7 linked regions of the Homo sapiens genome follow. The gene in region 5 interacts genetically with the main gene of each other region. Each region holds a gene or a part of one and is shown on either strand. Other genes may lie near its edges.

Region 1 (4,179 bases), on a different chromosome or scaffold from region 5:
TTATTACTCATGTTTTTTACCTTTTGATGATATGGCTGTATATGTAGTATTACAACTACCTTATGAAATAAACTAATCTTGTGTGTAAATAAATATTCCTTTGCACTGAAAACCAAATGACTCACCTTTTCTTTTGAGACTGGGTCTCGCTGTGTTGCCCAACCTGGAATTCGATGGCACGATCACAATTCACTGTAGCCTTGACCTCCTGGGCTCAAGCGATCCTCCCACCTCCCAGCCCACTGAGTAGCTGGGACTACAGCCGTGTACCACCATGCCTGGCTAATTTTTGTATTTTTTGTAGAGGCAGAGCCCCACCTTGTTGCCCAGGCTGATCTCCACTGCTTCTGGCCAAATGACTGACCTTTTAAAGAAAGGAGTTGGGTTTTGCAGTATTTGATCACTTTTTTTATTTTTATTTTTTGAGACCGTCTTGCCCTGTCACCCAGGCTGAGTGCAATGGTGCAATCACGGCTCACTGCAGCCTCAGCCTCCTGGGCTTAGGCATTCCTCACACTTCAGCCTCCCAAGTATCTGGGACCAAAGACATGCACCACCACACCCAGCTAATTTTGTTTGTTTGTTTTTGTGTAACGATGGGTTTTGCCATGTTGCCCTGACTGGTCTTTTTAACTCCTGGGCTCAAATGATCCTCCCACCTTGGCCTCCCAAAGTGCTGGAGTTACAAGCGTGAACCACCACACCCAGCCTGATCACTTTTAATTCGATTTTTTTTTAAACATAATTTTTAGACTAAGTACAGTGGCTCATACCTATGATCCCAGCACTTTGAGAGACCAAGGCGAGAGGATTGTGTGAGCCCCGAAGTTTGAGACCAGCTTGGGCAACATTGGGAGACCCTGTCTCTACAAAATTACAAAAAACATTAGCCAGGCATGGTGACATGTGCCTGTGGTCCCAGCTACTCAGGAGGCTGAGATGGGAGGATTGCTTGCGCCCAAGAGGTCAAGGCTGCAGTGAGCCGTGATCGAGCCACTGTACTCCAGCTTGGGTGACAGACTGGGACCCTGTCTCAAAAACAAAAAAACAACAACAAAAAAACGAACAACTACTCCTAATGGCATTGTATCCACAGAATACTATTAACATTACAAACTTAACTAATGTTTCTCTAAACTCTTACTCTAGTAAATGAAATGATTACATGAATGTGTTCTCTCCTTCCAGAATTACATTTAATGTTTTCATTGATGGACAAAGTTCCTAATGGTATAGAGCCAATGTTGAAAGACTTGGAGGAACATATCATTAGTGCTGGCCTGGCAGATATGGTAGCAGCTGCTGAAACTATTACTACTGTAAGTTTTTTTTCAATGGCAATGATAGATATATATCAAGGCTATTTTTTAAATGTAGGATTATTGAAAATAGTGAGCGGTTACCAGAGGCTGGGGGTTGGGGGAGCAGAAGAGGTTGGTTAGTGGGGTATAAAGTTATAGTTCAATAGGAAGAATAAGTTTTGGTGTTCTATTACCCATTAGGGCGGATATAGCAAGTAACAATGTAGTGTATATTTCAAGATAGAAGAGATTTTTTATGTTGTTACCACAAAGAAATTATAAATGTTTGAAGTGATGGATATAGTAGTTACCCCAATTTGATCATTATAGTATATACATGCATTGAAATATAACATTGTACCCCATAATATGTACCATTATGTGTTGATTACAAATAAAAACATTAAATTTTTAAAAATACAGAATTGAAAATTGAAAATAGTAATTGAAATTACTATTTTCTCTGTAAAACAGGGAGCTGGGCAAGGTGGCTCACGCCTGTAATCCCAGCACTTTGGGAGGCCGAGGTGGGCAGATCACAAGGTCAGGAGATCGAGACTATCCTGGCTAACATGGTGAAACCCCTCTCTACTAAAAATACAAAAAAAATAGCCAGGCGGGGTGGCGGGCGCCTATAGTCCCAGCTACTTGGGAGGGTGAGGCAGGAGAATGGCGTGAACCCAGGAAGTGGAGCTTGCAGTGAGCCGAGAAGGTGCCACTGCACTCCAGCCTGGGCGACAGATCGAGACTCCGTCTCAAAAAAAAAAAAAGGAAGAAAGAAAAAAGAAGTGGCAAAACAGTAATATTGGAACACCTTTTAGTTTTATTTTTAAGAAAAAATATCCCCAGTTTTAAATGAGTTTTATTAAAATTATGTTTATTTTCTCATTTTTTTGTGTTATTCTTTTTCTTTTAAAAACTTAATGTAAAACCTTTTGTTTCTAGGACTCTGAGAAATACGTTGAGCAGTTACTTACACTATTTAATAGATTTAGTAAACTCGTCAAAGAAGCTTTTCAAGATGATCCACGATTTCTTACTGCAAGAGATAAGGTATATATTCCTATATATATAAAAAACACTTTTAAAAGTTTTATTCTCATAATTTACTTCTAATAATCAATTTGCATTATTTTTCTATTAATTATAAACTTAAAAACCTAGCAACTGTTATTTTTCATCAGTGGAGAACAACTATATTCGTTTTGTCTTGGCTGTAAGCATTTGTTAAACATTAGATAGCCTTGTGAATTAGAATTTAGTTAGAAAGTTGCTTTTTTCTCATTTTTCCAAGAATGTTTTTCTGTTTTTGAATATTACTGATCTATTGAATTCCTATTCATCCTTCCATTAAGACCCAGCTCAAAGAATACTTCCCCTGGAGCTTCCTTGATGTCCTGCCTCCCTCCACAGCTCATCACCAGCAGAGTTGATTCCTCCATCCTCCGTCCTTTCATGGGACTCCTTCGGGAGTTATGTTATACTTATCCTTGTTTCCCAGGGAAGCATTTGTATTGCATACCATCTTTTTCCATCCTCACTAGTATAGGATAATGATAATAAAACACCATACTGTCCTTAGCATTGTATCTTTTTTAGTGTAATAAACCTATAACAAGAAATTGCTGTTAGTTTTTTCTCTTCTTTGACTACCTTTCGTTACTTCCCAAGTTTGAATGATTCTAAAAAGACAACTTTCTCCATTCTCCAGTAGGATTTTTTTCTCACTCTTTTTGTCTATTTTAATTTTTTTTTTTTTTTTTTTTTGAGACTGAGTTTCGCTCTTGTTGCCCAGGCTTGAGTGCAATGGCATGATCTTGGCTCACTGCAACTTCTGCCTCCCAGGTTCAAGCGATTCTCCTGCCTCAGCCTCTCGAGTAGCTGGGATTACAGGGACCAACCACCATGCCCGGCTAATTTTTGTATTTTTACTACAGACGGGGTTTCACTGTGTTGGCCAGGCTGGTCTCGAACTCCTGACCTCAGGTGATGGGCCCGCCTCGGCCTCCCAAAGTGCTGGGATTACAGGCCTGAGCTACTGTGCCCAGACTCTTTTTGTCTATTTTAAAACAAGTAAATAGGCCAGGTGCAGTGGCTCACGCCTGTAACCAGCACTTTGGGAGGCCAGGGCGGGTGGATCACCTGAGGTCGGGAGTTCGAGATCAGCCTGATCAACATGGAGAAACCCCATCTCTACTAAAAATACGAAAAATTAGCTGGACGTGGTGGTACATGCGTGTAATTCCAGCTACTTAGGAGACTGAGGCAGGAGAATTGCTTGAACCCAGGAGGTGGAGGTTGTGGTGAGCTGAGATCGTGCCATTGCACTCCAGCCTGGGCAACAAGAGCGAAACTCTGTCTCAAAAAATAAATAAATAAAAATAAAACAAATAAGTAGGTAAAGTAGGAAAGGAGTTAAGGGAGTATAGACATGGTGGGCGTGGTGTGAAGTCTTAAATTGAGTAGCCTGCAAAGGCTTCATAGGAAGCCAGATCATGTAAGACTCTGAGCCATGGGAAGGAGTTAGTTTTTACTGTGAGTAGGATGGGAAGTCATTTAAAAATTTTAAACAGAATGGTAGAATGTGATTTATGTATTAACAGGATCATTCTGGCTGTTGTAAAAAATATACTGAAGGGAAGAAGGAAGAAAGAATACCAGTTAAGAACTTATTTAAATAATTCAATTAAGTGATGATGGAGGCTTGTCCCAGAGTGATGGTAGAGGTGGTCAAAAGTAGTTCGATAATTTTTTTTTTTTTTAATGCAAGTAGCTTATTTGGGAAATGCAGGGACGATAGCGTGGCGTATTAGTAAGTCAGATCTACAGTGAGCTACTTGAACTTAATTCTGCAAGGAAACTTATTTAAAACCCTGCT
Region 2 (3,507 bases), on a different chromosome or scaffold from region 5:
CTCAAAAGTTTATATACTGTATGGTTCCATTTCTATAACATTCTCAAAATGACCAAATTTTAGAGAAGGATAACAGATGAATGGTTGTTGGGACTTAGGGATGGTGAAGGAGGAGGGATGGGAATGACTGTAAAGGAGGTAGAGGAGGGAAATCTTTGTGGTGATAAAATAGTTTCGCATCTTGATTGTGGTTGAGGTTACATGAATCTACACTTGCGATTAAATGGCCTAGAATTATACACTTATACACACACAAATGAGTGCTTGTAAAACTAGTGACATATTAATAAGATCTGTGAATTGTACCAATGTCAATTTCCTGACTTGGATATTGAACAGTAATTATGTAAGATGTTAACATGTGGGGAAACCTGGGGAAGGGTGTGTAGAACCTCTCTGCACTATTTTTTTTTTGCAGCTTCCTGTTATTCTATAATTATTTTAAAAGTAAGAGCTCAGTACAAAAAAGGAATGAACTTCTATTGATACATGCACAAATCTGCATGAACCTCAAAGGCATTATGCTGAGTAAAAAAATAAAATAGCCTATCTTAAAAGGTTACAGACTGTTTGATTGCATTTATATGGCATTCTCAAAAAGACAACACTACAGTGATGGAGAACAGATCAGTGCTTGCTAGGTGTGGGGGAGAAAGGAAGATGTGATTGCAAAAGGATAGCACAAGGAGATTTGAGGGGTTATGGAACTCCTCTCTGTCATGAATCTATACATATGTTTAAAATCAGATCTGCACATGCACAAATGTCAATTTTACTGCAGAATAAAATTTAAAATAAAAGTAGATAGGCAAGGCCGGGCATACCTGTAATCCCAGCACTTTGGGAGGCCGAGTCGGGTGGATCACGAGATCAAGAGATCGAGACCATCCTGGCCAGCATGGTGAAACCCCATCTCTACTAAAAATACAAAAATTAGCTGGGCATGGTGGCACACACCTGTAGTCATAGTTACTCGGGAGGCTGAGGCAGGAGAATTGCTTGAACCCGGGAGATTGCAGTGAGCCGAGACCGCGCCATTGTACGACAGCCTGGGCAACAAGAGCAAAACTCCATCTCAAAAAAAAAAAAAAAAAAAAAAAGATAGGCAAGTAGTTTGTTTCTGACTTGTTTCTTCTTTCCTTCCTTCCTTTCATTCGTCCATTCATTCAGCCATTTACTGAGCACCTACTATGAGTGAGGCACTGTGCAAGACTTTGGAAATCAACCAAAAGTAAGACAGCCAGGCCCTGCCCTCAGGGAGCATTGTTTCTGTTTCAGAGAAGTGGCCAGTAGGGTTTGGAGCCCAGTGTTTCTACTTGGGGAAGTGTGGCAAGGCAAAGACTACGGAGGGACAAAGTGAGCAACTTTTCATTCCTAGAGCCCAGTCCGGTAGGATTTCAAATGATCACTTTTCCCTCAAAGACTCTTAGGCCTGAGATCAGAGGAAAGCCCCCAATCCGTGTTTCACAGGTACTCACAAGAGAAAATGCTAGGAGGGTTGTGCCTTGCTAAGGGAAGGAAGAAAAGTTGGGGGTGGGGAGCATGAGATTTGATGCAGTTAGTAAAGAATGAACTCTGAAAAGTGTTACGAGAGAGAGAGAGAGACTTAAAACAACCATTTGTTTAGCTCATGACTCTATAGATTGGCAATTGAGCTGAGTTCAGCTGGGTGGCTCTTCTGGTTCTGGCTGGATACACCCAGCATCTGCAGTCAGCTGGCTGTCAAAGGCCTCGATCACATGTCCAGTAATTGGCTGGTGGTTGCCTGGGTGACAGGGATCTCTGGGCCATTTGTTTCTCATCATCCAGCAAGCTATTCTGGTCTTGTTCCTTATGGCGAGGTCACAGAGTTCCCAAGAGCAGCAGAGAATAAGCCCCAAAATATAAGTGCTTTTTAAAAAATAGCTCTATTGGGGTATAATTCACATACATTACCTGACTTTGAATTTTGTTTTCTCCCCTGTTTGCAGGGAATCTGAAGCATGTGGTCTAGTTGACAGAAAGAGATCAGGTTTCCAGAGCTGAGGAGTGGTGCCTATAATGAAGACAGCGTGTTTATGCAAGCAGTTTGTGGAATTTGTGACTGCAGGGAAAATTTGAAAGAAATTACTTCCTGAAAATTTCCAAGGGGCATCAAGTGGCAGCTGGCTTCCTGGGGTGAAGAGGCAGGCACCCCAGAGTCCTCAACTGGACCTAGGGGAAGAAGGAGATATCCCACATTTAAAGTTCTTATTTAAAAAAACACACACACACAAATGAAATTTTTAATCTTTGAAAATTATTTTTAAGCGAATTGGGGAGGGGAGTATTTTAATCATCTTAAATGAAACAGATCAGAAGCTGGATGAGAGCAGTCACCAGTTTGTAGGGCAGGAGGCAGCTGACAGGCAGGGTTTGGGCCTCAGGACCATCCAGGTGGAGCCCTGGGAGAGAGGGTACTGATCAGCAGACTGGGAGGTGGGGAGAAGTCCGCTGGTGTTGTTTTAGTGTTATATATCTTTGGTTTTTTTAATAAAATCTTTGAAAACCTACCTCTTTGTCCCGTTGTCTTCATTGTAAAGCGCCACTGACAGCACACACAGTTCTGAACTTTTCTTCTCGCTGAAGTGTCAAGAATAACCCTGTTCCTTCCAATCTCTACTCTGGCCCGGCTTGAGAGTCTGACCTCACTGGGGAACTAGTGTGTCCCTAGCCCAAGTTCTTGGGACAGAAGGCCAAGCTCTGTGTTGCACTGGGGCTGTCCATGGTGGGGTAGGAATACTGGCACTGCAGTCATGGAGAGGGGCTTATTGGCACCCTGGGGAGGAGCTGTCCCTGTCCAGGGAGTGATTTAGGGATGGAAAAGGTGTGTTGGCATGTCAGATCCAAGAGGAGCACTTCCATGGATAGAAAGGATGCTTCCCAGTAGACAATTGGCACATAATGAAAAGGGGAGGAAGTTGTAATGTGTGGTGTTACTGCAACCTCTGGGGAGTTGGCAACATGGAAAAATGGGGATGGGAGATAATGGGAGAGATGAGGAAGAGACAACTAAATGTCATGATATTGTAATTTTATTTACCAAATATTTACAAAGCTCCTTCAACTAACTACTGGGACCGGGACGGCAGACAAGCACACAGCCCCATCCATCCTGGCTGTCTAGGAATTCCCAGACAAGGCAAGGGAGGAGAAAAAGAAGCAGATCCCAACATGTTTCCAGCTCTGTTATCAACATGAGCTCAGAGCTGTGGGAGCACATTTCTACTTTTCAGTATTTTCCAAATTTTCTGTAGTGGGCACATTTTACTTTAATAATAGAAAAAAATAAATACATAAACCCCAAAAAAAAAAAAGAAACAATTGATCCGCGGGGAGTTAGGGGGTAGTTACAGATCAAAGTCAGTTCAAGACACCCACTGAGGAAGACTTTGTGCTCAGGCCCTGGGGCTGTTCTAATTGCCTGGAAGACCGATCAGTGGGGGCGATGGCGGGGAGGGGGATGCGGGGGAGGGGGATGCTTTTTAG
Region 3 (4,179 bases), on a different chromosome or scaffold from region 5:
CTGTGGTATAATGTAGAACATTAAGTTAATCATGTAATTTTAAAACTGTTAGTTTTAGTTTTAGAATAGTTTCTTTGATTATACTTTACAGTGCTATGGTAGAGAGAAAAAAAAGCTTTTTAATTTAATAATTTATTTTACTACTTCCCTCAGTAATCTTAAGCTGCCAAAAGATAGTTTTCTTTCTTTCTTGGTGCTTTAAAGGCTTAGAAAAAGGCAGGATTAAACAAATGTAACTAAGTGTTTAAGTAGTATTTTTGAAAGGTTAAAACAAGATTCCACAGTTCACCTATATGTTTGCCTTCTACCACCCATAATCGACAATAACTACTTAGACCTTCTTTTTTGTGATACACTGACCCATTGCTGCCTCCTGATGCTTGTGAATATAGTGCAAGCAAACATGCATATATACCTTATCAAGTGAGTTTGCAGTTCATATGAAATCCAATCAGTACTCTTTCATGCACTGGAAGTAAGTCTCATCCTCTCCTCATCCCAGTCCCCTCCACCCTCCACCCTTGATAGATGATTGATCTCTGTTCTAATAATCTGTTCAAGTTTCTTTTTTTTTTTTTTTTTTTTTTGAGACGGAGTCTTGCACTGTCGCCTGGGCCTGGAGTGCAGTGGCGTGATCTCGGCTCACTGCAACCTCCACCTCCTGGGTTCAAGCAATTCTCCTGCCTCAGCCTTCCGACTAGCTGGGATTACAGGCGCCTGCCACTACGCCCAGCAAATTTTTTGTATTTTTAGTAGAGACAGGGTTTCACCATGTTGACCAGGCTGGTCTCAAACTCCTGACCTCATGATTTGCCTGCCTTGGTCTCCCAAAGTGCTGGGATTACAGGCGTGAGCCACCACGCCCGGCCATAATCTGTTCAAGTTTCTTAGTTGTAGTTGCCTCCATTTCTTTATAAAATGAAGCCATTCAACATTTTAAGTATAAGGTTTAGTGCAATGAGATAGGGCAAGTTCTTAGGTTAAAAGTTAATGTTCAAATATAACATCTATTTTTTCTTTCCTGCAGCAAACCAAGAGGAAGCTAGATGATGCCAGCAAACGTTTGGAGTTTCTGTATGATAAACTTAGGGAACAGACAGTAAGTTTTGGAGGAAAAGGATTTATGATAATCATTTATTCCTAGTTGCTAGTAAAACAGTTGTCTTATCAGCACTCCCATTTAGTATGCATGGGGGCAAAATTGTCATGACATTTAGAGAATGGGCATGGCTGTGTTGAATCATAAATTCCACTCACTGGGGTTAAGGGGATACGGGTGTGTGTGTGTGTGTTTGTGTGGGTGTGTTGAGAGAGACATTTTAACCCTCTCATAACAAGAGTATAAATACAAACTGGCCTGTGTTGGCCATAAGGTAGCTGACCTTCTGCTGTTCCTTTTATATGGCCCAGTTACAAGAAATCAAAGAGTATGCAGATACTCTGTTTTCCAGGGACTAAATCTATAATCTTTATCATAGTCTAAGACTCTTGACCCTTTTCTTTTAGGATAGCCATTATACAAAAGCAAAGCCAAATGTAGCCACAAGATGAATAGGGTAATGTGCTGTAACTATGAAGATAGCCAGGAGTAAGAAGTCAGTTCACTACGTTTGTTCTCTTGTCCCCACCTCACCATTCTTTTCTAAAATTGTCTTGTTTTATTAATGAAAGCACTAGGAAAGGAGAAGAAAAAAAGAAGTGGGACTTTCTTTTTATTTTTTCCATTTCAGCATTCCTCTAACCCATTCCCCACACTCAGTTCCATCAGATGAAAATAACCATTTCTCTCATGAGAACCAAACTAAAGAAAGTTGATATAACAGTGGAAGTAGTGTGGTCCTTGGACTGATCCAAAATAAAGTCTTCTCGGTGGGCACAGTGGGATATGCCTGTAATCCCAGCTACTGAGGAGGCTGATGCGGGAGGATCACTGGAGCCCAGGAGTTTGAGACCAGCCTGGGCAACATAGCAAGACCGCATTTCCAAAAAAAAAAAAAAAAAACAGAAGATACAATTAGCGTATACATCTAGATGAGTATATATTAAAACATTTTTTAAAAATGAGATCAAAATAGGCCAGGCATGGTGGCTCACGCCTGTAATCCCAGCACTTTGGGAGGCTGAGGCGGGCAGATCACCTGAGGTCAGGAGTTTGAGACCAGCCTGGCCAACATGGCAAAACCCCGTCTCTACTAAAAATACAAAAATTAGCTGGGCATGGTGGCACACGGCTGTAGTCCTAGCTACTCAGGAGGCTGAGGCAGGAGAATCGCTTGAACCCGGGAGGCGGAGGTTGCAGTGAGTCGAGATCGCACCACTGTACTCCAGCCTGGGTGACAGAGTGAGACTCCATCTCAAAAAAAAAAAATCCAAATAAAGTCTTCTGTAAAGTATGGACACCTATGCCAAGTAATGACATAGTAAAAAACTACAGGTTTTATAGTTTTAAGAGATGACAGGATTATAAAAAGCAGGTAAGAATTAGTAAATTTGGGCCCTTCCTTTGAGATATTATGATTAAGAATCTTTAATCTCCTTTTTGTGCATAGGAGAATTTTTTAAAGGTCTGAAGCTCTCTTAAGTGGAGAGAGAAATTAGCATTTCAGTTTGGAGAGGAAATCGGGCTGCTTTTCTGTAAGAAAATACCTGGCTTATACATGTATAATTCATAAATAACTTATTTATGTAAATCATTTTGTTGTGGTTGTACTTGATAACTGTTGCTTGGTTCAAGAAACTTTCTAGAAATGCTAAATGGTTTATATATTTTTATAATGTTTGTTTCAAATTCCACTTAAATATCTGGGTTTAATGTTTATGGAGGATCTCATGGGAAGTTATCCCTTAATTTAATTCTTTCTCTTGGTTCACTTTTGTTTCAGCTTTCACCAACAATCACCAGTGGTTTACACAACATTGCAAGGAGCATTGAAACTCGAAACTACTCAGAAGGATTGACCATGCATACCCACATAGTTAGCACCAGCAACTTCAGTGAGACCTCTGCTTTCATGCCAGTTCTCAAAGTTGTTCTCACCCAGGCCAATAAGCTGGGTGTCTAAAAGGACAGCTTCTCTTCCACTCAATATTGCCATTTTTCCAAAGAAACATGTTAAAAAAAAAAATTATAAGACATGGACTAGTCCTCATTAGCATGTTTGCATAGCAACCAGTCAAGAGCATTTACACTATTTCTGCTGATATACTCACCTTAGAACTGCTCAGAACCCTGGTGCTTTATTTTTGTTTTAATCTTTTGTTGCCAGTGATGATTTTCCTATTCTGCAAATAGTGTATTTCCTGGATTACACATAGTATGGTTTCCTGAAGTATTCTGATAAATGTGTTTTTTAAAACCTCAATATACTTTTTAGAAAAGGAGCATCTGGTTATGCATAAAGCAGAGCTAAAACTAAATTTCTTTCATGTCCTCCCTACTTCCTCAGTGTCAATCAGATTAAAGTGTGTAATCCTATTTTATGTGTGTATAGTCTTTTTTGAAACAGCTGCTTAAAATTTAGTTTATTTTTTGTGTCTTAGGATTCCTGAGTAAATAACTACATCTACAAACTGCTACATGGGTTTTAGCAGATATTAATAAAAATGGGATCACTGGCTTTAACTATATAGGAAAAGACTGGACATTTTTGTTCTGTAGAATGCATTGAGCTTTTTTCTATTTGTAAATGTTTCAATATTCTGTTTGAGTTTTAAGACTAAATTGTGTCCATTTTATAGCTAGAAATTTTTTCACCTATTTTGTTTAAATTACCTATAGCTGTGCCAGGCATGGTGGCTCACGCTTGTAATCCCAGCACTTTGAGAGGCCGAAGCAGGCAGAGGTCGGGAGTTCGAGACCAGACTGGCCAACATGGAGAAACCCTGTCTCTACTAAAAGTACAGAATTAGCCGGGCGTGGTGGCGCATGCCTATAATCCCAGCTACTTGGGTGGCTGAGGCAGGAGAATTGCTTGAACCCGGGAGGCGGAGGTTGCGGTGAGCCGAGATCACGCCATTGCTGTCCAGTCTGGGCAATAAGAGCAAAACTCTTTCTCAAAAAAAAAAAAAAAAATTACCTGTAGCTTTGAGGTTTAAGTTCAGAAAGAAAGCTTTAATTTCAGTCAGCCTGTAAATCAAAGCCACACATTTTGCACCCAGTTTTTCTGTCAAGTGACTTTA
Region 4 (4,179 bases), on a different chromosome or scaffold from region 5:
ATGGTGCACGCCTGTAATCCCAGCACTTTGGGAGGCCAAAGTGGGAAGATGGCTTGAGGTCAGGAGTTTGAGACCAGCCTGGACAACACAGCAAGACCCATCTCTACAAAAAAGTACTTTAAAAATTAGCCAGGCATAGTGGCACTTGCCTGTAATCACAGCTACTCAGGTGGCTGAGATGCGAGGGAGAATCATTTCAGTTCGAGGCTGCAGTGAGCTGTGATCGCACCACTTCACTCCAGCCTGGGCAACAAGCAAGACTCTGTCTCTAAAAAAATAAAAATAAAATGTGTGGGCGCAGTAGTAGCCAGTAATCCTATACAGAGAGTTAAATGTAGCTTGTGTTCCATTATTCTTCTTCCTGTTTTATCTCTGAAGTCATTATTTTTGCTGGCTTTCGTGTCTGATGACCTGGTTTTACCTATTTTCTGCAGAGTTTTATGTATTATAAAATGTCAATAAAATGTATTTATTAAATTTATGCTAAACTGCAGTCTTTATAGGTTTATAAAAACTTTCTAATTTTAAAGCCTCTAATTGTTTAAGATCCTAAGTATAACTGGATGATAAGCCTTTGTATAAAAAAAGGCCAGAGCCAGCTTGCACACAGTGTAATTTGACTGTTCCTTCCAGTTCAGGGTAGCATTGAGCTATTTGCTGGCGCAGAGTGATTAGGGTCTTTAGCTTCCCTTCTTTGCAGTGTTTTAATAGGAAAATATCATTTATTAATAAGAGGTAATATCTTACTTTACTTGTATACTTTTTCCATTGTAAACCCCTTCCTTTTGTATGCTGGACTCCTAAGAAGATTAAATCCCCTGTAACTTACTTGACTGATGTTCATCTGTCATTTTACCTGGCATTTTGATGTCCCCATCTTTTAACTTTATTTACTTGTATGTTTCCTACAAGAGCAGTAACATCTTTATTTAATACACATAAATGCTTTTTTCACTCTTCAGCAAGGATTTATTAAGTAACTATTGGGTGCCTAGTGCTGTGCTACATTCTGTCAGACATGTTAAAGGAAAAGAGAGGTAGAAAATTTAATGCTTTAGCATTTACAGTCCATCTGGGGATAGAAAACATTCAAGTGAAAATGGCTTTGTATATCTGAGGTGGTGTATAGAGGAACCTTTGAAGACTGCCTGCATAGATCACTAGGTCTAGGCAAGGGGAGAGTTGCTTTGAGCTGGAATCAATTTTTTAAATTTATTTTTAATTTTTCTTGAGACAAGGTCTTGCTCTGTCACCCGGGCTGGAGTCCAGTGGCATGAGCATAGCTTGTTGCAGCCTTAAACTCCTAGGCACAAGTGATCCTTCCACCTTAACCTCCTAGATACCTGGGACTACAGGCATGCACCACCACACTTGGCTAAATTTTAAAAATTTTGTAGAGATAGGGTCTTGTGATGTTGCCCAGGCTGGTCTCAAACTCCTGGCCTCAAGTGATCCTCCCCCATCGACCTCCCAGACTGCTGAGATTACAGGCATGAGCCACCATGCTTAGTCTTCAATTTTTTATTCTTTCTTGAGGGAAGTGGTTCTGTAGTTAGACTTTGATTGATGTCCAAGTTTTGGCTTAACAAGCTGAGAAGTTCAGTATGTGCCAAGAATTACAGGTGAGGAGACTTGGGGAAAGGAGAATAAGAAGGTTTTGTTCGATGGTGTTAAGCAAACTGGTTTAACTAGACTGGACATTGAGAAATAAGTTGGAACTAGTTGATAAAGGGCTTAAGAACCTATCTAATATAGCAGTTTGCCCTGAATTTGAAAAGCAGCAGATTCTTAAATGGTAACTGACACATCATAAGGGTGGTGGGTTTTTTGTTTGTTTGTTTTTGAGACGGAGTTTCACTCTTGTTGCCCAGGCTGGAGGGCAATGGCACAATCTCGGCTCATTGCAACTTCTGCCTCCTGGGTTCAAGCAGTTCTCCTGCCTCAGCTCCCAAGTAGCCGAGATTACAGGCGCCCGCCACCATACTCAGCTAATTTTTATATTTTTTAGTAGAAACGTGGTTTCACCATGTTGGTCAGGCTGGTCTCAAACTCCTGACCTCAGGTGATCCACCTGCCTCGGCCTCCCAAAGTGCTGGGATTACAGGTGTGAGCTACTGTGCCCGGCCAAGGGTGGTGTTTTCAAACGATGAATCTGACACGGATGTGTAAGATTAATTATATTAGGGAAAAATGAGAGTAGGGAACCTGATGCTAATTTAGGTTTGAGTGATGAAAATTTAGGTTAGGGTGATGGCAATAAAAATGTGACAGATGTTAGAATGAAGATAAAGTTGCAGGATGCTAAGGAAGAGATAGACAATGACAATTAGATTGGTCTGGAAAGAAATGATCAGAGGCCATAGATCACTTTCCTTGGAATAGTAGAGGAAGAGGATTAAGGAATAGGAGGAAGTTGGGGCCATTGGGGGTTACACATTTCAGTGATTTTTCTGTTAAGGTAGGGCTGAGTCAAATGAAGAGTTCCCTCTTAGCCACCTCTTCAGGACAGGGAAATCTTCTAAGGGTTTGAAGCAGAAAGAAAAAAGATAGTGGCCGGGTGCGGTGGCTCACGCCTATCATCTCAACACTTTGGGAGGGTGAGGCGGGCGGATCATTGGAGGTCAGGAGTTTGAGACCAGCCTGGCCAACATTAGTGAAATTCTTTCACCTCCAGACCAATGTTTGAACAGTTTCTGTCTCACATAGCTTAACGCTGTCTTTCTCATTTTCACTTTAGATCCAGAAGCAGCAAGGTCTAGCAATTCCAAAATCACCACCACGCTGGGTCTGGTTGTCCATGCTGCAGGTAGGGTTGGATTGCAGTGGAACTTCTTTGTTTTCTATCGCACAGGGGAGACCTTAGTGTTTATATTTCAGGGACCGTCCTCATTGAATGCTCTTGGACTGGCCTTTGAGGAAAAGGTTTCTTAATGAAGTCCTCCAACACAAGCACAAGCTTGGTGTGCTCAGTGTCAGGGGTTTGCAAGCTAAGAATGGTTTCTATACTTTTTAATGGTTTAAAAAAAAAAAGAGAGAGAGGAACATACTGTAGCACATGAGAATTATATAATTCAAATTAAGGAAGTTTTATTGGAACACAGCCTTGCCCATGTATTTATGTATTGTTTGTGACAGTGAATTTGATTAGGGAAAAATGAGAGTAGGGAACCTATTGCTGATTTAGGTTTGTTTGAGTGATGAAAATTTAGGTTAGGGTGATGGCAATAAAAAATGGAGAAAGGCAAATGTGACTGATGTTAGAATGAAGATAAAGTTGCAGGAGGCTGAGGAAGAGATAGACAATGACAATGATCCATCTCTTTTGTTTTTGTGCAACAGTGGCAGAATTGAACAGTTGCAAGAGACCAAATAACTGCAAAGCCTCAAATATTTACTGTCTAGCTCTTAAGAAGAAGTTTGCTCTTTTCATTCTTGGCTCTAGAATGTCATCTGGAAAAGAGCCTTGGCGCTTCTGTCCTGAACAGCTCTGTTACCAGTTTATATGCAAAACACCAGTTTAAGCAGAAGTGGTATGCAGTGGAATGCAGAGATCTTAGCATTGCTGACAGGGTACACTTTAGAATCATAACCCAAACCTAGTCCTAGTAATAGAATTCTGTCAGTGGCAAAGAAAGGCATGTGAAAGGTGGTACACTGTTACCTGGCCCTTTCTAAGTATAATATGCTTTTCTAACAAATTTCATTCATTCAACCAGTGTTTACTTATTAAGTAGTAATCATCTATATAGAGTTCTAGTATCTTTATTTTATTTATTTCTTTTTTTGAGACGGAGTCTCACTCTGTTGCCGAGGCTGGAGTGCACTGGCACGATTCGGCTCATTGCAAGCTCCACCTCCCGGGTTTAAGCAATCCTCCTGCCTCAGCCTCCCAAGTAGCTGGGACTATTTTGTTTCTTAACCTATAAGATTAAGAGATGCTTCCTTTGAAATTCTTCTTTGGTATTTCCCTTGTTAGAATTTGATTAACTAATCAATGGATTTTTGATTAGTTGGAAAATTGAATGTTAGTTTTCCAATAACAACAACAGCAACCAAAATAACTAACATTGAATACTCTGGGCCAGATGCTATGCTCTTTACATAAGTTATCTCATTTAATCCTCATGAAAACCCTAAGAAATACATACTTCATTGAACACATTTTAAAGATAAGGCTGG
Region 5 (4,179 bases):
CACCACGCCCAGCCTAGGATAAAAATTTCTAACTTTGCCCTTGAGTGTTCTCTGTATTTGATAATTACTATTCTTTGTACTTGCCATGAGATATTTTGAAAAACATCTCTTTGGGGAATTGGTTTAAAAATTCATATTAAATTATTTTCTGGTACAATTGAGAATGTATTTAGTCAGTTTAAGTAGCAGTGACTTAAAACACACTTGTTGATCTAGTGTAGTTAGAAAAAGTTCTGATACTTTGATACCTAGCTTTGCCTTGCACAAATACATTTAAGTGAATATCTTTATGTTGGCCATTTAAAAATTTTAGGCAAATTTCTCCAAGTCATACTGGAATTTTCCCAGGATACCTTCCTTCTTTTGAGGTAGTGTGCTCAAGGATTCTGAATTTATTTCAGTATTACCCTTTACATGAGCAGTGATTGAGAAAGTTGATCTGCTTTTTAAAAACCAACAAGGACAAATCCTCCAATATAATGTATTCTGTGGTTAATTAGCAATGATTTATGGATTAGCCTTGAAGTCTTTATATCAGTATAGATGACAAATTTTCTGTAAATCATGATAGATTCTATATGAGTAGGTGAAATCTTCGGGGGAGAGCATAAGTGAACAGCAGCAATTCATTAAATTCAGAGAAAGGTTCATGGTCAGATGATACATACTTTACCTTCTGGAGGTCTTCCCTGAATTCCCACTCTTGTGTTCCCACAGGGTTTTATCATATTTTATTGTAGCATGACTCAATTGTATTGTAATCACTTGTTTATGCATCCCTCTCTTCCCTACAGTCAAAGTGCCTCCTGGTAGAGGCTCTGTCTTATTTTTTTCTTTGTATACCTAGTACCTACGTTGGTATTTGCTAGAGAATAGGGGTTTTAAATATAGTTGAATGAATTAAGGAAATATGAAAAATGTAGGGAAATAATTTGACAAAGGAACTTGCAAAGTGAACAGGATATGTTAGTATTCATGTGAGGAACTTTGAAATGTGTTTTTCTCCCTCTTTAATAGGGAATGATTACAAAGAAAAATAGTTGTCAAGGTGAACAAGTTCCAAGTTTTTCCTAGTTATAATCTGTAGTACTAAACATTAGATATCCTTTAGATGCAACTATTACACTCGGACAACTGGAGAGAACTTGATGAATCATCTGGATATTTAGTAATAGTATTTGCTTAATTTGATTTAATGTTGATATTGATGATCTCTTTGCAAAAATATAAGGAAGGGAAAGGGCGAGAGAGGGTAGTAGATCTTTTAACTGAAAAGCTGTTTTGTTATAATTCATGAGTTCTTTATTGGAGTAAATTGAGGTAGGTTTTGGAGCTAAAACTGAAGGATGTAGCGACAGTGTAATTGGATCATTTATTGGGATGCTTTTCATCATTCTTTTAAAATGATTTAAATACAGATTAGCAAATTTAGTGATACCTCAAAAGTTACAGCTGGTAAATTTCTAAGATAGTTGCACCATTCCATATCTTGCCACTGTTCCACTACTTGGTATAAAAATATGACAAATTTGTGTTTAGATTATGTGGTTAGCAGTTTCTTAATAATTGGTCTTGTTTTCCATTAACAATAGCAAGACAGAACAAGATCATAGCTCACTGCATCCTTAAACTCCTGGGCTCAAGGGATCCTCCTGTCTCAGCCTCCTGAGTAACTGGTATTACCAGTGCACACCATTGTGGTGACTTATTTAATTTTTTAATTTTTTGTAGAGATGGGATCCTGCTTTGTTGCCCACGTTGATCTCAAACTCCTGGCTCCAGGCAATCCTCCTGCCTTGGCCTCTTAAAGTACAGGGATGACAGGCTGAGCCATTGTGTTTGACCCAGATACTTTTTTTTTTTGAGACGGAGTCTCGAAAGTGATTCTTGTGCCTCAGCCTCCTGAGTAGCTGGGACTACAAGCGTGCGCCACCACGCTCGGCTAATTTATTTATTTATTATTTATTATTTATTTTTTTGAGATGCAGTGTCACTCTGTCACCTAGACTGGAGTGCAGTGGCACCATCTTGGCTCACTGCAACCTCCACCTCCTGGGTTCAAATGATTCTCCTGCCTCACCTCTCAAGTAGTTGGGATTACAGGCATGCACCACCAGGCCTGGCTAATTTTTGTATTTTTAGTAGTGATGGGATTTCACCATGTTGGCCAGGCTGGTCTCGAACTCCCGACCTCAGGTGATCCACCTGCCCTGGCCTCCCAAAGTACTAGGATTACAGGCGTCAGTCACTGTGCCCAGCCTCCGATAATTTTTATATTTTAGTAGAAACTGGGTTTCACTGTGTTGGCCAGGCTGGTCTGGAACTCCTGACCTCAAGTGATTGACCTGCCTCGTCCTCCCAAAGTGGTGGGATTATAGGTGTGAGCCACCACACCCTGCTGTGTTGTTTTTGTTTTTGTTTTTTGTTTTTGTTTTTGTTTTTTGATATGGAGTCTCACACTTGTTGCCCAGGCTGGAGTGCAGTGGCGTGATCTCGGCTCACTGCAACCTCTGCCTCCTGGGTTCAAGCGATTCTCCTACCTCAGCCTCCCGAGTAGCTGGGATTACGGGAACGCACCACCACACCTGGCTAATTTTTGTATTTTTAGTTGAGATGGGGTTTCACCACGTTGGCCAAGCTAGTCTCGAACTGCTGACCTCAGATGATCCGCCTGCCTCGGCCTCCCAAAGTGCTGGGATTACAGGCGTGAGCTACTGCGCACGCCTGGCCTGGATACTTTTTAAACATTTTTAAATTAAAAATTTTTTTTTGGAGACAGGGTCTTGTTGTCACCCAGGCTGGAGTGCAGATGCGTGATCTCAGTTCACTGCAACCTCTGCCTCCTGGGCTCAAGCGATCCTTCCATCTCAGCCTCCCAAGTAGCTGGGACTACAAGTGCATGCCACCACGCCTGGCTAATTTTTGTATTTTTTGTAGAGACAGGGTTTTGCCATGTTGCCCAGGCTGGTCTTGAACTCCTGAACTCAAGAGATCCACCTACCTCAGCCTCCCAAAGTGCTGGGATTATAGGTGTGACCCACTGCACCCAGCTTTTGTTTTTAATATTTGTAAGAACCACCTTGTGTCTGCCAACAGGCGAATTAACAAAATGTGGTATATAAACCAATGAAAACATAAAAGGAGTGAAATAAAGACGTAAAAGGAGTGAAATTTCAAAATAAAAGTAAAAAGATTTCAAAATAATTCAGACATAAAAGGAGTGAAATTCTGATACATGGATGGAGCTGGAGAATATTATGCTTAGTGAAATAAGCCAGATACAACCTTTTGTACAAAAATACAAAATTGTATGATCTCATTTATATGAGGTAGTTAGAAGAGGCAACTCTATGGAGACAGAAAGTAGAATAGAGGTTACCAGGGCTGTGAGGGGAGAGGTGAATGGGGAGTTTAATGAATACAGAGTTTCTGTTTGGAATGGTGAAAAAATTCTGGAGATGGATAATAGTGATGGTTGAACAATATTTTGAATATATTTAATGCCACAGAATTGTACACTTAAAAATGGTTAAAATGGTAAATTTTACACGATATGTATCTGTATCTATATATATCTCTCTCTATATCTATATATCTTACCAGAATACAAAATTTAATAACACACTCCGAAAACCTTTACAGATGAGGAAACTGAAGAAAACTGTCTACAGGGGAGGAGTTAAGAATTTGCCCAGGATTATTCAGCTGGGAATTTGCATTCGGGATCCAAACTTAGTTCTGTTTCACTACATATTATCTACTCCATATTATCTGTTCTGTGTTATCTGCTGGCTTTCTGGGTGATTAAAGATATGTCAGCTCCGAGAAGAATGAGTTTATTTGAATCATTCAGAAAGTTACATTTAAAAGTAGGTAATTGTAGTTTGATGGAAGGTACAGTGTGAAACCCTAGACAGACTAAAGGTTAACTTTGAGGATTTCTTTCTCAGCCAGAGTGGTAATAGTATGCATTTGAGAGGGGAGGAGAGTAGAGTTCTAAGGATGTGGTCTTTGGAGACAGTTTCTTGGGTTCCAGTCCCTGAGCTACCAATTTGTGTCTGGGGTGTTATCCTCTTGATGTCTTAGCATCCCTATCTGTAAATTGGTGAGGATAATGATAACATCTGATAAGGTGGTTGTGAGGATTAAAGGAATTGATACATGTGAAATCCTTAGAAC
Region 6 (4,179 bases), on a different chromosome or scaffold from region 5:
TCTTCTCAGACACCTTCATCGGGGGAAGGTGAAGGTTGCTTTTGGTGCCTTCCAGCCTACCCTCAGCACACCTTCCCAGCTGCATCTCCGCTGCACTCCCACGTGGCTCTCTCAAACAGGCCTGCTTGCTGCTATCAAATGGGTCATTTAGTTTGCCACCTTTGTATGTGTGACCCTTCTGTTCTACCTACCTGGGATGCCCTTCCCTTTCCTATTTGCCTACCCAGATCCTTCCTATTCTCCTTTGAAGACTCTGCTCAGATGCTTACTTTTTTCCTCAGGTGCCCCATTTGAATTATTGCTGTTTCCTCTCAATTGTTATCGATTATTATCTGTGTCATAAATAAGAAGCCAATCATGTATTACCTTGTGACATTACTTGCATTGCTATCTTAAGTGTTTTAGGACACTGGGTTTTGTCTCCTTTTACATCTTTATACGTTAACTCCCCTAACAATTATATGATTGTTGAAAGTCTGTGGGTGCTCCATAAAATGAATATTTAGACTTAGTCATATGGATTTTTAAGAGTTAAACATGGATGACAAGATCTATGAATATATGTAGAAAAATCCTTAGGAATCTACAAAAAAGCTACTAAAACTAATAACTAATGTAGCAAAGTTATAGAAGCCAAGATTAATGTACAAAAATCAGTTGTATTTCTATATACAGTACCAATGAACAATTGGAAATGGAATTTAAAACAGTTTCATGGTCAAGCACAGTGGCTCATATGTGTAAGCCCAGCATACTGGGAGGCCAGAGTGGGTGGATCACTTGAGCCCAGGAGTTCAAGACCAGCCTGGGCAACATGGCAAAACCCTGTCTCTACAAAAAATACAAAAATTAGCTGGGTACGGTGGCTTGTACCTGTAGTCCCAGCTACTTGGGAGGCTGAGGTGGTAGGATCAATTGAGCCTAGGAGGTCAAGGCTGTAGTGAGCTGTGATTGAGCCACTACACTCCACCCTGGGTGACAAGCAAGATCCTATCTTAAAAAAAATAAAACACAATTTCATTTATAATAGCATAAAACTTGTGTAGAAATCAAGTTAATGGGCCAGGCGCAGTAGCTCATGCCAATAATCCCAGAACTCTGTCAGGCTGAGATGGGCAGATCACTTGAGGTCAGGAGTTTGAGACCAGCCTGGCCAACATGGTGAAACCCTGTCTCTACTAAAAAATACAAAAAATAAAAATTAAAATTAGCCAGGCGTGGTCACGCACGCCTATAATTCCAGCAACATGGGAGGCTGAGGCAGGAGAATTGCTTGAACCTGGGAAACGGAGGTTTCAGTAAGCGGAGATCATGCCCCTACACTCCAGCTGAGGCGACAGAGCGAGACTCAGTCTCAGAAAAAGAAATAAAGAAATAAAATTAATGAAAGAATCATAAGAAGTACACTGAAAACTTTAAAACATTGCTGAAAGAAATTAAGGCAGCCGGGCGTAGTGGTTCACGCCTGTAATATCAGCACCCTGAGAGGGCGAGACAGGCAGATCACTTGAGGCCAGGAGTTAGCGACCAGCCTAGCCGACATGGCAAAACCCCATCTCTACTAAAAATACAAAAATTGCCTGGGCGTGGTGGTGCGCACCTGTAGTCCCAGCTAAGGCATGAGAATCACTTGAACATGGGAGGCAGAGGTTGCAGTGAGCCAAGATCGTGCCACTGCACTCCAGCTTGGGTGCTAGAGCGAGACTCTGTCTGAAAAAAAAGAACTTAAAAAAGGCGTAAATTAATGGAGAAATGTGCTATGTTTATGCGTTGGAAGACTTAATATTGTAAGATGTCAGTTCTCCCCAGACTGCTCAATAGATTCAACACAATCCCAATCAGAATCTCAGCAGGCTTTTTGTAAAATTCGACAAGCTGATTGTAAAATGTACATGGAAAAGCAAAAGTAGAGAATAGCAAAACAATTTTGAAACAGAAGAACAAAGTTGGAGAACTCACTGTCTGATTTTAGAACTTACTAGAAAGCTACTATAATCAAGACAGTTTGCCTACTAGCAGACAGATAGGCAAATAAATAATGGAACAGAATAGAGTCCAGAAATAGATGAATAAATACATGGTCAACTGATTTTCAATAAAGGGGTCAAGGTAATGCAAAGGAGAAAGAATTCTCAACCAATGATGCTGGAAGAGTCAGACGTTCATATGTAAAAAAGCAAACCTTGTTCGGGAGCTGTAGCTCACGCCTGTAATCCTAGCACTTTGGGAGGCCGAGGCGTGTGGATCACCTGAGGTCAAGAGTTCGAGACTAGACTGGCCAAAATGGTGAAGACCCTTCTCTACTAAAAATATTAAAAAATTAGCCGGGCGTAGTGGCACATGCCTGTAGTCCCAGCTACTTAGGAGGCAGAGAGGTAGGAGAATTGCTTGAACCAAGGAGGTGGAGGTTGCCGTAAGCCAAGACTGTGCCCATTGCACTCCAGCCTGGGTGACAAGAGCAAAACTCCGTCTCAAAAGGAAAAACAACAACAAAAAGCAAACCTTGATTCATATCTTGTACCATATAAAAATTTAACTTGAAATGACTCAGAGACCTAAATATGAAGCCTAAAACTAGAAAACTTTTAGAAGAAAACAGGGAAAAATATTTGGGACCTGGGATTAGGCAAAGATTTCTCAACTAGGACATAAAAAATTTTTTGGGTGCGGTGCTTACGCCTGTAATCCCAGCACTTTGGGAGGCCAAGCCAGGAGGATCACTTGAGCCCAGAAGTTCGAGGCCAGCCTGGGCAACATAAGGAGACCCCATCTCTACAAAAAATTTAGAAATTAGCTGGGTGTGGTGGCACATGCCTGTGGTCCCAGCTACTCAGGAGGCTGAAGCTGGAGGATTGCTTAAGCCCAGGAGGTTGAGCCTGCAGTGAACCACGATTGCACCACTGCACTCGAACCAGTGCAACAGAGTGAGACCCTATCTCAACAACCCAAAATTATACTGCCACATTGCACATAATGCAATATTATTCAGCAGTAAGAAAAGAAGCAACTACTGATACACACAAGAACATGGATGAATCTCAAGAGCAGTGTACTGATGAAAGTAGCCAGACACAAAGACTCAAGACCATCTGATTCTATTTATATCGTATTATGGAGAGACAAAACCATAGATCAGTGGCTACTTGGGGTAGGTATGAGGGGTTGACTGCGGAGGAGCCTGGGAGAGCTTTCTGGGTTAATGGAAATGTTTTATATCTTACTGTGGGGGTTATACAACTGTACATTTGCCAAAACTCATTTAACTGTACACTTGAGTGGGTTTTATTATATGCAACTATACCTAACTTTGGGGGGAAAATGTCTGGAAGATACTGGTGTGTCTGAGACTGAGGTCAGAAAGATGAGTAGAAGGAATTTTATTTTGTGTTGTCTGGTTAGTGCTTTTCCCCTTATTGTGGATGTTTACCAAATATCCCCACTATTCCATCTTCCAGTTGGAAGTTCATAAGCAAATGTACAGTTAGTGTCCCATTGAGCCAGATTGAGTTTGACAGCAAAGATTGGAAGTTAATGGTGGGCTAAAATTGACTCTAAGAAAAAGTGATCAGAGCTAGGTGGGACTTTCTCATCAATGGCGCCGACTTTTTTTTTGCCAGTCACAGTGGTTTGGGCTCTCAAACGGTCATTTGACATACCTTTATGTGTAAACATAATGAGCCAGTGTTGAGTTTGGGGTTGGTGAGGGTTGTGCACTATTGGATTTTTAAGTGAGCATTAGTTTGTTTAATGAAATTGCAAAGGGTGTTTCATATTCCTGGCCCCTGAGCACCAAATGTCCTCAGCACTTCAGTCATTGTGGCAGCCAAGAACCACCCCTGGTCATTTTCAAATACCTTAGGGGTTTCAGGGGAAGGTGTGCCTGGCCTGGCAGATAGTGCACTTATGTAGTTGGAGTCAAGAATGCAGACTTGAGTCAGAAAACCTGTAATCTCTGTCTCCTACTGGCTTTGCAGTGTTGAGTGTAACCACCCCTTTGAGTCTGGGTGTCCTTGTCTGCCAGAGGATGGTTGGACTAGATACCCTCTCATGGCAATCGTTTTTGATTCTGCAGTTTAGTGTAGTACAGTGTCAAGACTTCTGTCACTGGCCAGGCATAGTGACTCATGTCTGTAATCCCAGCACTTTTGGGAGGCTGAGGTGGGAGGATCAGTTGAGCCC
Region 7 (4,179 bases), on a different chromosome or scaffold from region 5:
TCGCTCATTTGAGTTCTTTGAAATGGGTCCCTTGGTCCTGCTGTCACATTGCCTTGAGCTAACGGATCCTGTTCCCATCATAGGCCGGTCCTTGGGGCATTGGGCAGGTGGGGGCTTTGTGCCTCTGTGGCTGCTGCTGTCTGTTCTCTAACAGGCAGAACTGAGGGATTCTGAACTCAGGATGTGCAGCTCTCCAGACTGAGACCCCAAGGCTGACTCCAGGTGGATCCATTGTCTCTTTATTCTCATTACGATTTATCAGAAAAGTGAGACAAATTCAGGATTCTCAAATGCTGAGGCAGCCCCGGAATTGGGGGGATCTTTCTGTTGTTAGTCCACCCATATTTTCAAGCAGGCATTAAAGGAAGGTCAGCCACTGCGCCTAGAATAAGTAGGTCAGGCCTGCTCCATCCATTGTCCCCGGCCCCGCACCCTCCTCCTGAGAAGACTGTGGCTCCTGACACGTCTAGAGAGGAAGGGCCCCGGGCTGCTGAGCGAACACAGTATGAAGATTGCTTACTGATCCAAATGTCCATTTTATTGCATGTTTGTTACTTTTTTTGTTAGATGTAATGTAAGATTCTCTTATCACATCCATTCCCTCTGACATTAGTTTTGAGTTAATTGAGATTCTTTAAGCGTTAGCCTGGGGAAGGTAAGTCTTTATCTTCCATTAGACATTTTAAATTTAAAAATCTAAGTAAAACACCAGCCGTGTTTCTCAGGTATGAGTTAAAAGCACAGGTGGGCGGGCTCCAAGCAGTCCAGAGGGCGATGAGGATGCCGATTGCTGGGAAGATCCTGGTCCCTTTTTGTCCCCATGTTTTCAAGAGGAAGGAGGACGCTGCCATTTTACTTGAGTGAAAGACCCTTCGTCACGCACGAAACCCCCGAGGGCTCTGGGCTCGGTCCTGCTGCCCCGCAGTGGGCGGGCTCTGTGTGTCTTACGGTTGCATCTGTTGTACCTGAGAAACATTTTTTAAACAAAAAAATTCAACACAAAAGAATTTTTTAAGAAAAAAATGCTACTGGCCTAAATAAGGTTTATAGTTAAGTATTTAGTCTTAAGTTGTAAGATGCTAAGTGTAGTCATAAGTTACCCGAGGGTGTGTCTAAAGGGAAGGGGGTGCTGGGACCCGCAGCCTCGCCCTAAACCAGAGCTCGGTTTGTTTAGGTGGAAGTTAAACGAGCTGAGCCTCGGGACAGCAAGAGCCAAGCGCCGGGACAGCCAGGTGCCAGCCAGTGGGGGAGCCGGGTTGTGCCCAACGCTGCCAATGGCTGGGCAGGCCAGCCCCCGCCCACGTGGCAGCAAGGATATGGCCCGCAAGGTAAGGCTGATGCAGAGGTGCCCACGGGAATGTCCCCCTTCTCGGACTTGGCCCGCGCGCCCTGGGCTGTGCCGTCGCTGCGGCCTCCCCACCTCTGCTGTGCATGCACAGAGCCGCGGTTCACAGTGTCCTTGAGCCCCCGCGAGGTGCCGGCTGACAGCCAGCTCCCGGGCAGCACCCGCAGCCTCCTCAGTAGCGGGGTGGCCACGGCTTAGGTGCCCGTCCGGGGCCTGGGACTCATTGTCACCGGGAAGAGCTGCAGTGAGCGTCTGCACCTCGCGACCGTGTGCCACGGCAGGTCTGAGCACGAAACCCTGAGAGGGCTGGCATTGCCAAGCTGAGCTCAGAATCGGGGTGCTGCCCCTGGGGGGCTTGAGGAGCCGGCAGGCTTTGGATCCTTGCCACCTGCCGTTCCCTCTGCAGTGCCGTGGGCCCTCTGTAGTTAGGCCCACGTTGTGGGCCGTCCTTGGAGCTTCCAGCAGCCACGGAACCCCTGGGCTTGGCTGCAGCCCGACCCGAGTTGTGGGTCAGGGTTCCAGATGTACGTCGTCCGGGTCCCGAGACTGTGGCTTCCCTGCACCTCGTCTAAAACCTTTTTCTCTGGAGCCTCCCTTGTTGGAAACTCGGAGGTGCTGTGGGGACTGTCCCTGCCCTCTCGAGGCTTAGAAGTCTCAGGTTTCTCTGGGGTCCTCAGGTGGAGCCGGGAGGTCACCCGTGCCCCAGTCAGCAGACACAGTGCCCGCCACCTGGCAGGGCACAGAGGAGAGTGGCTTTAAGGCCTGTTCTACAAGGGGTGGGGAGTGCTTCTCTGCTCAGGGTTCAGAGGGCTCTGCCCTCAGGACGAACAGGCTCTAAGCACAGGAGGCTCCGGGGTTGGTCCCAGCCCTTGACGTCCATGCTCTGCGGCTCCTTCTCTGCGTCGGACAGCTGGTGGACACGGCGCCAACCTCCTCTTCTGTTCTCTTATCTAGGAATGTGGGTGCCGGCAGGACAGGCGATTGGTAAGTCCTTGTTTATAGAGCAAAGGCGGGGACAGAAGCCACATGGCAGGCTGACTCGCCAGGTGTCCTGGGGCAGCCGGCAAAGCCTGGTTCCCGTGTCCTGAGTGCTGGAGAGGAAGAGAGGGTGAGGGGCCTGCTAGGGCCCCTGGCAGGCCTGGGTCTAACTGTGGCCAGTCTGTGTTGTCCAGCGCTCTCTGTCCATCACCCCCGTACTGTGTGTTTCAGGTGGCTATGGACCGCCCCCTGCAGGAAGAGGAGCCCCCCCGCCACCCCCACCGTTCACCTCCTACATCGTGTCCACCCCTCCTGGAGGCTTTCCCCCTCCCCAGGGCTTCCCTCAGGGCTACGGTGCCCCGCCACAGTTCAGTAAGTCTAGGGGGCCTTGTGGGAGGGCCTCCCGCCTGCTCCGGAGATGCCAGGTGGTGGGCGGGGTGATGGGGAGTCTTGTGTTACACGTCTGGCCTCAGCCACAGGTGGGGTGCCGGCTGGTCAGCAGGTCACCTGCCACCAGGCCCTTCACCTGCAGATGGGCTCCATCGCCTGTGGCCTCGCTGGTTAGGCTAAAGGGCAGCCCGGGCTCCTGCGGGTTGGAGAGCTCATAGCAGGAATGTCTGGGCCCAACCAGTTCTCACAGGCTCCTCAGGAGACAGAGCCTGGACTTCGTGTCTTAGCCTCATACTTCAGGATTAGGGGGGCATTTGTTTAAGGGTGTACAAGCTCTAATTGTTTTTTTTTTTTTTTTGAGATGGAGTTTCACTCTGTAGCCCAGGCTGGAGTGCAGTGGCGCAATCGCGGCTCACTGCAAGCTCCGCCTCCTGGGTTCACACCATTCTCCTGCCTCAGTCTCCCGAGTAGCTGGGACTACAGGCGCTCGCCACCACGCCCGGCTAATTTTTTTGTATTTTTAGTAGAGACGGGGTTTCACCATGTTAGCCAGGGTGGTCTCGATCTCCTGACCTTGTGATCCGCCTGCCTCGGCCTCCCAAAGTGCTGGGATTACAGGCGTGAGTGACTGCGCCCAGCCTCACAGGCTCTAATTCTTGACTAATTTTCCTGTACACGTCACTTGTAATTGAAAAGCTGAGTGTAAGATCAGCCGACACACCCAGAGTTTTATTTTATTTTATTTATTTATTTATGGTTTTTTTTTGAGATGGAGTCTCACTCTGTCGCCCAGGCTAGAGTGCAGTGGCGCCATCTCGGCTTACTGCAAGCTCCACCTCCTGGGTTCACGCCATTCTCCTACCTCAGTCTCCTGAGTAGCTGGGACTACAGGCGCCCACCACCACGCCTGGCTAATTTTTTTGTATTTTTAGTAGAGACAGGGTTTCACCGTGTTAGGCAGGATGGTCTCGATCTCCTGACCTCGTGATTCGCCCGCCTCGGCCTCCCAAAGCGCTGGGATTAGAAGCGTGAGCCACCGCGCCCGGACTATTTTATTTATTTTTTTGAGATGGAGTTTCACTTTTGTTGCCCAGGATTGAGTGCAGTGCCCCGATCTTGGCTCACTACAACCTCTGCCTCCTGGGTTCAAGCGACTCTCCTGCCTCAGTGTCCTGAGTAGCTGGGATTACAGGCGTCTGCCACCACGCCCGGCTAATTTTGTATTTTTAGTAGAGAACAGGTTTCACTATGTTGGTCAGGCTGGTCTTGAACTCCTGACCTCAGCGCATCCAGAATTTTAGACGGGGCCCCCAGGGTGAGGTCTTGGCACCCTCCAGTAGAGAAGAAGGGACATGGGCCATACGTGGGGTGTCCTTTCTGGGAGCCTTGCGTCCCTTACCTGCCTAGCCAGGGATTGCACCTCACAGCACGCAGCCAGCAGGAACGGCACCGTGATCTGATTTCAC

The links.
Region 1: changes in EZH2 (region 5) and CUL5 together harm fitness less than expected from each alone (positive genetic interaction), as found in Homo sapiens cells (one large-scale study listed by BioGRID).
Region 2: changes in EZH2 (region 5) and HDAC8 together harm fitness more than expected from each alone (negative genetic interaction), as found in Homo sapiens cells (one large-scale study listed by BioGRID).
Region 3: changes in EZH2 (region 5) and SEC31A together harm fitness less than expected from each alone (positive genetic interaction), as found in Homo sapiens cells (one large-scale study listed by BioGRID).
Region 4: changes in EZH2 (region 5) and SLC39A9 together harm fitness more than expected from each alone (negative genetic interaction), as found in Homo sapiens cells (one large-scale study listed by BioGRID).
Region 6: changes in EZH2 (region 5) and DCAF7 together harm fitness less than expected from each alone (positive genetic interaction), as found in Homo sapiens cells (one large-scale study listed by BioGRID).
Region 7: changes in EZH2 (region 5) and DAZAP1 together harm fitness less than expected from each alone (positive genetic interaction), as found in Homo sapiens cells (one large-scale study listed by BioGRID).

The regions. Positions count from the first base shown.
Region 1 is NC_000011.10:108,071,144-108,075,322, forward strand, and holds part of CUL5 (cullin-5), read left to right. Parts: intron 1-1,188; coding exon 1,189-1,319; intron 1,320-2,246; coding exon 2,247-2,354; intron 2,355-2,656; coding exon of another isoform or gene 2,657-2,734; exon of another isoform or gene 2,735-2,923; intron 2,924-4,179. UniProt on the Homo sapiens protein: Core component of multiple cullin-5-RING E3 ubiquitin-protein ligase complexes (ECS complexes, also named CRL5 complexes), which mediate the ubiquitination and subsequent proteasomal degradation of target proteins.
Region 2 is NC_000023.11:72,328,540-72,332,046, reverse strand, and holds the end of HDAC8 (histone deacetylase 8), read left to right. Parts: intron 1-1,170; exon of another isoform or gene 1,171-1,231; intron 1,232-1,278; coding exon of another isoform or gene 1,279-1,356; intron 1,357-1,970; coding exon 1,971-1,993; 3' UTR 1,994-2,531; downstream 2,532-3,507. UniProt on the Homo sapiens protein: Histone deacetylase that catalyzes the deacetylation of lysine residues on the N-terminal part of the core histones (H2A, H2B, H3 and H4).
Region 3 is NC_000004.12:82,817,957-82,822,135, reverse strand, and holds the end of SEC31A (protein transport protein Sec31A), read left to right. Parts: intron 1-1,027; coding exon 1,028-1,099; intron 1,100-2,882; coding exon 2,883-3,062; 3' UTR 3,063-3,627; downstream 3,628-4,179. UniProt on the Homo sapiens protein: Component of the coat protein complex II (COPII) which promotes the formation of transport vesicles from the endoplasmic reticulum (ER).
Region 4 is NC_000014.9:69,450,504-69,454,682, forward strand, and holds part of SLC39A9 (zinc transporter ZIP9), read left to right. Parts: intron 1-2,737; coding exon 2,738-2,806; intron 2,807-4,179. UniProt on the Homo sapiens protein: Transports zinc ions across cell and organelle membranes into the cytoplasm and regulates intracellular zinc homeostasis. Participates in the zinc ions efflux out of the secretory compartments.
Region 5 is NC_000007.14:148,877,490-148,881,668, reverse strand, and holds part of EZH2 (histone-lysine N-methyltransferase EZH2), read left to right. Parts: intron 1-4,179. UniProt on the Homo sapiens protein: Polycomb group (PcG) protein. Catalytic subunit of the PRC2/EED-EZH2 complex, which methylates 'Lys-9' (H3K9me) and 'Lys-27' (H3K27me) of histone H3, leading to transcriptional repression of the affected target gene.
Region 6 is NC_000017.11:63,573,975-63,578,153, forward strand, and holds part of DCAF7 (DDB1- and CUL4-associated factor 7), read left to right. Parts: intron 1-4,179. UniProt on the Homo sapiens protein: Involved in craniofacial development. Acts upstream of the EDN1 pathway and is required for formation of the upper jaw equivalent, the palatoquadrate. The activity required for EDN1 pathway function differs between the first and second arches.
Region 7 is NC_000019.10:1,427,668-1,431,846, forward strand, and holds part of DAZAP1 (DAZ-associated protein 1), read left to right. Parts: intron 1-1,174; coding exon 1,175-1,328; intron 1,329-2,299; coding exon 2,300-2,329; intron 2,330-2,554; coding exon 2,555-2,695; intron 2,696-4,179. UniProt on the Homo sapiens protein: RNA-binding protein, which may be required during spermatogenesis.